Linked DNA regions of Homo sapiens: region 1 is linked to region 2. The links come from fine-mapping of genetic effects on gene expression. A gene starts in region 2. The other region holds a variant in brackets. All regions are shown on one strand. Distances are from middle to middle.

Evidence for each region. PIP is the estimated chance that this variant, and not a neighbour inherited with it, causes the effect.
Region 1: its variant is the best candidate, but not a certain one, in a credible set for the expression of MTMR9 in lung (TOPMed, PIP 0.63).

Annotation. Positions count from the first base shown.
Region 1 is chr8:11,313,326-11,317,325 of GRCh38, reverse strand. MTMR9 (myotubularin related protein 9) reads right to left here. Exons shown (of 10, transcript NM_015458.4): 7 at 2,262-2,403; 8 at 433-653. MTMR9-AS1 (MTMR9 antisense RNA 1) reads left to right here. Exons shown (of 2, transcript NR_189628.1): 2 at 1-1,467. Among named protein-coding and RNA genes, the nearest start is that of MTMR9-AS1, 10 kb to the left of the region's middle. The variant A/G (reference allele first, on the strand shown) is at 2,439.
Region 2 is chr8:11,282,498-11,286,497 of GRCh38, reverse strand. It overlaps MTMR9 (myotubularin related protein 9), which reads right to left and starts at 1,682. Exons shown (of 10, transcript NM_015458.4): 1 at 1,428-1,682. The coding sequence starts at 1,609. LINC00529 (long intergenic non-protein coding RNA 529) reads left to right here and starts at 2,467. Exons shown (of 5, transcript NR_170283.1): 1 at 2,467-2,647. RefSeq lists a silencer at 1,594-2,003 and enhancers at 1,697-2,198, 2,474-2,533, 2,624-2,713.

The sequences.
Region 1 (4,000 bases), 31 kb before region 2:
TGCCAAAATGGTTGGGGATCGCTGCTCTAGGCCACACTTTTGATGACCAACTGACTCTATGTCCTGGGAAAAGTCACGTAACTTCTCTGGATCTTACTTTCTTAATAAAATTAGAGGGAAGACCTGAATTATAAATTAAGGCTTTTTCCACATGTAAGATACTATGATCCTATGTTAAGAAATTAACATTTAAAATGGTTGCCCCTTAATTCACGTATGGACTAATTTTAACCTAACAGAACAAAGTCTAGGACATGCTCTCATAAAAGAATATACTTCAGGTCATTTAAATTATAATTAACTGTAGCCTCTACCTTTTTATAAATAATTTTAATATAGATCCAAATCGTCGTCTCCTAGGAGATTCTGGCTACTTAGGAAGTAGCCAAAACAACGGAAAAGGAAAGGTCCCCATGTGAGCAGTGTACTCACCTTTCACTTTCATTGTTGCCCAGAAATGTTCCAAACTGTGAGGCATAAGCATGCTCAAAGAGCATGATGAGGAAATTCTCATTAAACTCAAAAGAACAGGGAAACTGACGAAGGATCTGCCACACGCAGTCCAAGAAGAGAAGAAATACAGGAGCCTCCCACTTCTGCTTGGTGTTACAGTAGGCTGACTGTGCACAGCGCTGCTGGAATGGGTGACCAGCCTAGGGGGAAGATGGAGGCGTGACAGTCATATCCTGGTGAGATCACATGACAGAGCATTCTACCGACACCACTATACACAATTACAGTGACACTCCTAGTACCTGGAACATCATATAATTAGGGTAGCTGTTGTACAGATTAATGATTTCTTGGTATAAAATAAATAGCGGCAGCAACTAAGGAAAAAGACACACTTCCAAATCCTTAATGAGGCTGCGCGGCTAAGGTGTGACCACAGGAACTGCACTGCCCTTGGAATATCCCATGGAAGAATAATGAACTTAAGCAATAATAAACTTACAAAATAAACCTTTCTAGGTCTACAAAACCTGGAGCAAAGTCAAAGAACATAAGCTCTCAGTACAAAGAAGAATCATCACCTCTGTCTAACACTGTAGATTGTGCTGTACACTAAACAAGCCTCACCCTAAGTGGAGACAGATATGGAACTCTGATCACCTTTATAATGTCAGCTCTGATAGTAAATCTCTAATTATATACGAAAAGTTATTGTGTTGAAAGATCTTTATGAGTACTTTTCTACAGGAGATAAAGCTGTCATTAATTACCCTCTTCTCCCAAAATGAACAGCAAGAGTCTGCCATCTACTGACCAAAGTAAATTTAAGACTCATTTGACTGTCTTGTTCAGAACCCAAATGCTGACCTTAATACAAATCATACTCTGCTAGGAATTTCACAGATCTGCTTTGTCTCTGGGTCCTTCTACTACTGTATGTGACAAAGGTAATGACATAGAAATTTTACAGTGGTTCACAGAATTGTGATATCCATTAAAATAACATAAAAATCAGTCAGTCATACTCATTTGTTTGTCTACTATGCATCATGAGGAATATAGCTCAATAGACTTTCATCAAATATGGAGCATAAACTTAGTATGGTCTGACTTAAACAGAGGTAAGGTCAGTTGTCAGGCAGGGTGGACATGGTGTACGTAACAGCATTAGTGCATGATAAATGCGAATTGTAACCAGAGGAGCAAGATACTCTTTTTGCCAGAAAAATGTCTGCTTTCAAGATATGTAAGCATTTGTGTTCAAATACAATTATTTACCAGCTTACACAGTAGAAATATATTGAAAAGTAATCTCTGTGGAGGATATCAATCCCTGTTATGAGTGAGACTTTTATTTTGGCAGCCATCCAACATTACATGATTCAGTTTTATCTTTGAAGGAAGCTTCACAGGGTGGAGCAGCACGAGCAAAAGGCTTTGAAAGGGTTAAAGCGCTTTCCTTGCAACTACAGGCCCCACTCCCCCTTCCCCGACTGCTTATGTCTTTGATCCGTCAAGACCCAGCTTCTGGGAGATTGCACTATGCTTCCCATTCTTTGTATTTCTCCTGTATGTGATAAAGCACAGCCAACAGGAGTTTCCTAAGTGAAGGAAGTGTCAAGTGAGGAATACAGGCAAAGAGACATCCAGAAACAAGGAGAAGACAGATTAACTGTCCTGCAGTAAATTAAACACACAACTTAGAAATTTTAATCAATCGAAATTTCACACATTATGTCAGCTACCACACAAAGCAGGATCACAGCATCAATAAGCAGTTCCTCTGTGAATCAAACAGCTCTTCTCACCTGCAGCCACTCTCTTTCAATCAGGGCCTCAAAACCACGAATGGTCCTGCTTCTTGGCTCTAAGATGATCTGGGCCAAGGAGGTCACCTGGAGTGTGGAATCAGTTCCTTCTGTTCCGTGAATCAATATTGATGCTCCTTCCCTGATAGGAAAATCAGGGAAGAGTACAAATGGGAA[A/G]TGTCCAACATGGTCAATGAACTCTGTTAATAACAAGCGTTTATTGAGCACAACATTTTAGTCTACTGAGTTCAGTTTATTTAGTGTATTGAGTACAACATTCTGCTCTGACTTGTAGAGTTCAGAATCTAAATCTAAATCTAAGGCATACGATAGATAAGATTCTCTTGGGAAAAAATACGACTATAATGAATCTCAAATTTCACATGGCAAGACCTCTTTAAGTTATAACAAATTTCACAGAACCTTTTAGCTGAATTTTTCTTTCCCTTTTCAAAACCAAAAAGCAGCTCTTAACACAGAAGGCATTTACCCTTTCTGCTTTAATCGTTGGTTAAAGCCTCTTCTCATCAAAACTATAGACATACACTAAAATTATTTTTCTGACTTTGACTCTACCTTTCCACCATCAGCTGACTATAAGGACACCTTCATAAACTGTAATTCAATCTGGAAAATGAGACCTAGACCACACTTTGAGAAACACGACAACAGGAAAAAAAACAAACATAAAAGTGTCAATCTAGAAAGTCAGTTGTAAAGATACCACTGCATCATGAGACTCAGAAGTGTCTGGGACCCCATTATTCTAAAGAGAATGAAAGAAAACACCAAAACTAAATTTACTACATCTTCTCCCCTCCCCTTCTTCTACCCTTTCTGTTGAAACAATGAAGGAAACTTTGGAAAAAATAAAAACCACCAACTTCACACAAAAGCTTCGGGTTTGGTTACTACTGTCAGTTTTTACCCATGTACATATACACTACATAGAGCTTTAATACGAGGCAATTTCCTCTATTCTCACTCTTATTCTACACTCGTATCCTTCCATGTTTGTAAGTCATCTTCAGAACTAGGATAATAACAGTTGCAGGCATAGCTCGTTCATGGATCTTCCCTTGGTTGCTCTTCACAGATACTGCATTTTCCACAAATGGGAGATTTGCAGCTATCCCACGTCAATTAAGTATGCTGGCACCCATTTTCCAACAGCATGTTTTACTTTGTGTCTCTGTCTCATTTTAGTAATGCTCACAATATTTCAAAATTTTTCATTATTATTACAACTGCTATGGTGATCTGTGATCAGTGATCTTTGATGTTACTTCTACAAGTTTTGGGGGCATCAGGAACCACGTCCATATAAGACAGTGAACTTAATCAACAAATGCTGTGTGTGTTCTCACTGCTCCACTAACCAGCTGTTCCTTTGACTCTCTCTTCAGGGAGACTCTCTATTCCAGGGATCACAACAATATTGACATTAGGCCAGCCAACTAATAACCCTACAATGGCCTGTAAGTGTTCAAATGAAAGGAAGAGTAGCATGTCTCATTTTAGATCAAAAGCTAGAAATGATTAAGCTTAGTGAGGAAGGCACGTCGAAAGCTGAGTCAGGCCAAAAGCTGGGCCTCCTGCACTAGTTAATCAAGTTGTGAATGCAAAGGAGAAGTTCCTGATGGAAATTAAAAGTGCTTCTCCAGCGAACACATAAATGATACAGTGACACAGCCTTACTGCTCACATGGACAAAGTTCGAGTGGTCTGGATAGAAGATC
Region 2 (4,000 bases):
AGACGGGCTTTCATCATGTTGGTCAGGCTGGTCTCAAACTCCTAACCTCAGGTGATCCGCTCACCTTGGCCTCCCAAAGTGCTGGGATTACAGGCGTGAGCCACCGTGCCGGGCCCACTGAAGACTTTATACAGCAAAAGGTGGCTTGAGGAGACTAATAAGAGCCCCCTGCTCATATCAATCAATCAATCTACCATGGCTTCACCCAAACTGCCTGCAATTCTACCATTAGAAATTTTTATTTTAGGCCAGGCGCAGTGGCTCACGCCTGTAATCCCAGAACTGTGGGAGGCCTAGGCGGGAGGATTGCGAGGTCAGGAGTTCAAGACCAGCCTGGTCAATATGGTGAAACCCCATCTCTACTAAAAAATACAAAAATTAGCCGGGTGTGGTGGCGCGTGCCTGTAATCCCAGCTACTCGGGAGGCTGAGACAGAAGAATCGCTAGAACCTGGGAGGTGGAGGTTACAGTGAGCCGAGATTGGCCACCGCACTCCAGCCTGGGCAATACAGTGAGATTTCGTCTCCAAAAAAAAAAAAAAAAAAAAAAGAAAGAAAGAAAGAGATTATTATTTTAAGGCATATCCTCTGTACGAATCTTCCTAATATCCAAATTATCCTGTGAGGCAATAGAAAATGTTGTCGTCATTCATTTATACTTCTGTGTAAAACGGATAATCAGTTTGCCCTCTCCTGGCTAGCGAGTAGCCACTAAGGAGATGGGAATTTTGAATGCAGATGAAAGTTTAACTTTTTGACTTCGAGGCACTGCCTTGGAAAGATAAAGTCTGGAGTACAAAAAGAAAAAAGAGGTTAACTGGTCCATGCCTTTCCTTGAGAGCCAACCCTGTTCTTTCAGCAAGCAGAATTGAGTAAAGATGAAGAGAAGACATCAGAATCTCCCTTAGTGAGAATTAAATTTTGATGACCCAGAAGGTAAGAAATAATATGATACACTGAACATTTTTCAGAAATTAAAAAAATGGTTCTGTAGCATGTAGACACTCATAACTTTATAATCTGTTTAGTTTTCCTCAGAAATGGTAAAGACTTTACCTAAATCACATCCAATCACTTCATGAACGGTGACTGACAATACCAATTCAAGGAATACGATGGGGCAAGAAGAAGAAGAAATTTATAAAGACAATGCCGAAAATCCACCCAAATGGTGTTACGAACCAGAAATGATCATCAGGATGGTACCAGCCACACGATAACCCTGAGAACTCCATCCAGGTTTAATGGAAACCGGGTCCTCCATCTGGACGGGTTTCAGCTTGGTAAATCCTGATTCTAGGCCACAGAGGGCTCATCTTGCCGGCTAGCTGGGCGGCAGGCTGCGCGGAAAACGCCAGGAAGTATTTCCCGGGGCGCCCACAAGGGACCCCCGGCTCCCTGCGGAGCTGGGGTGGGGCGGGCACTCACCGCTTGTCGATGGCGTCGATGTTTGAATGGAGGAGCCACAGCTCCTCCGTATTGTCCTGCCGGGAGGACAGGATCAAGTGGTGGCCCGTCAGGCACAGGGTGCCCTCGACAGCCGGGTAGAAAGGCCGGTGCAGCACCACATTGTCCACCCGCGGGGTCTTAATCAGCTCCGCAAACTCCATGCTCCCCCGCGGCCGGAGCCAGGGAACCGAGCCCGGTAGGTGCGAGGCGGTTACCCCGCCGCAGGGAAGTAGCGGAAACACCCGGCGCGGGGCTGGCCCGTGGGGCGGGGCGGGCCGGGCGGTGAGGCTGGGCCCGCCCCAGGCTGGGTGGGCGCGGCGAGGCCTACAGCCGCCGGCACCGGCCGCGGGGAGACAGGGGCTGGGGCTGGACGAGGCCCAAGCGCCTCTCCCGCACCGCGCGGTTCACCAGGCCTAGGACTCGGCCACAGAGAACCCCTCTCCACAGGCCCAAGGACCGCCGCTGCCGTTGGGCTCCGGGTCCCGCGTTGGCAAGCGGAGGGCAGTAGGAGAAAGCCGCCTCAGAATCCGCTTCCACGCCCTGGCCGCTAGGGACTCCTAGCGGAAGTGGCTACTCGCTGCTGGAGCCCACAACAACTCCGGGCGGAAGCAGCAGGTCTCGAAACTCGGAAGACGCGGAAGTCGCAGCCGGAAGTTGGTCCTCGCTAGGTCCTCTGGAAATGCCTCCGGAAACACAGCCAGACCAGAAGATGTGTGTTCCTACGAGAAAAAAAGCTTGTCTTTGCCTTCACGCCCTCCCGCTGCCTTTCTTAACCACCTACAAATATTCCTTATCAGAAGAGGTCCGGGAAGAGGGAGGAGGTCCCTGTCTTGCCTTCCTCCGCTTGAGTAGTATCCCCTCCAGAAGCTCTTCAGAGCGTGGGGCTGCTGTAAATTGTGATAATTGTTATGCATTAGCCCTGAAGACATGGCAAGTAGGGGATGGAGGCGGTGACTGTGACCTTACGGAATCCTCCAGGGGTCAGGGAGGGACACAGGGCCACTCCACAGGCTCTCCGAGAGCGCCGCGCCACGAGGTGTAACCTGGAGCAAGAAAGAGGAAAAACAGGAATACCTGTGAGAGGAACCCAAGTACATGCAGTGCACAGAAGAGCAAGTCACTTGACTTGCTGGCGGCCACCCCGTTAATCTGCAGCAGAGCCTGGACTTCAGTCTGCATCTGTGAAACCCAGCGCATGGGTGCGTTGGTCACCACCGCACAGCCTCCCCGTCAGACACCCACGTTTCGCCAAAAATTTATTCAAATAATTACTCCTTTGCTTGTTCCTTTCCCACCGCCCACTTCTGACATTTTTATTCAAAAGTAGGAAATAGAAGAGAAATATGTTTGAGTGCTGGTCTGCTGTGACTTCATTGACCTTTTAAATCCTCACCATCTAGTACCTAAGCACAGCGAGTTGGACAAACTCTCACAGTATTCACAAAGTAAATTGCCACAACCTCATCAGCTCATCCAACACTTGTCCATGCTTTTGATTTTGTCCTTCTTAAAATGTACCCTTCTTAAAATAAACCACTTTATAGACTTGTTTTAAGTGAGATACGTAAATGCCTACCAACTTTCCTTGGTGTCTTTGTTGCATAGTTACTGTAGACTGAATAATAGTTGCCATTTTTTATATTTTTGCAGTTTAATTGCTTTCGTCCAAATAGATGGAATCACTTCCTTTGTAATATATGAAGTGTTTTAATTCATTTTTATAACTAGCATTCCTGACAGCACAGGTATCCACCCCCTGAAGTTCCCATTCTATAGAACAAAATAGCAAATAAGTATTTTTTTTTTGTTCCATAATGGACACCCAGTATACACCCAGTATACACAGGGACACCGCATACAGGGAATCAGCTTTATTTTACAACAGAGCTTCACTTTACCCCTCTGGCAATTAATAGATTCTGGGTATTTATTAAGAACTTTAAATTTAATGCAAAGACTGTTAAATACCACCAGCTCAGCTCTGGCAAAGGACTGTTGGCTTTGTTTATCTCCTATCTTCATCCAGATACACTGCCATCCCTATCCCAGCCCGATCTTGGGTCCTTGAAAAAAATGACCTATCATTCCAACTACCAGGGAGGAACTCCCTTTGAATTAATGAATCTGGATGACTTATAAGACTTCAAAAGTATGGAAATGACAAAGGTTAAAATGACAGGATGAGCAGTAAACCCTCTCCAGTCCAATCAGAGCAACCTTTTTGAGGGTGCATTCCCACAGAAACCCATTAGGGGCCCAACATCAACATACACAGAGCTAAAATTCCAGATGCCACTTTGTATTGAAAGAAGCCAAAATTCTGTTCAGGTCGTGGGAACTTGAAGTCTTCAATGCAACCACACCCCAGAAATTAACCCTCACACAATCATGTAAGCTATGCAATTAACCAAACTGCATCGTTTAGAAAACCTGTATGCTTTTCATGGAAACCATCCCTAGTTAAGGGCACTTTAAAGGATGCACAGTCTAAGTACTGTGAAGGTGGGCCCACTAGCTGGGTTGACATTTTCGCTTGGCCACTTTAGTAGGAA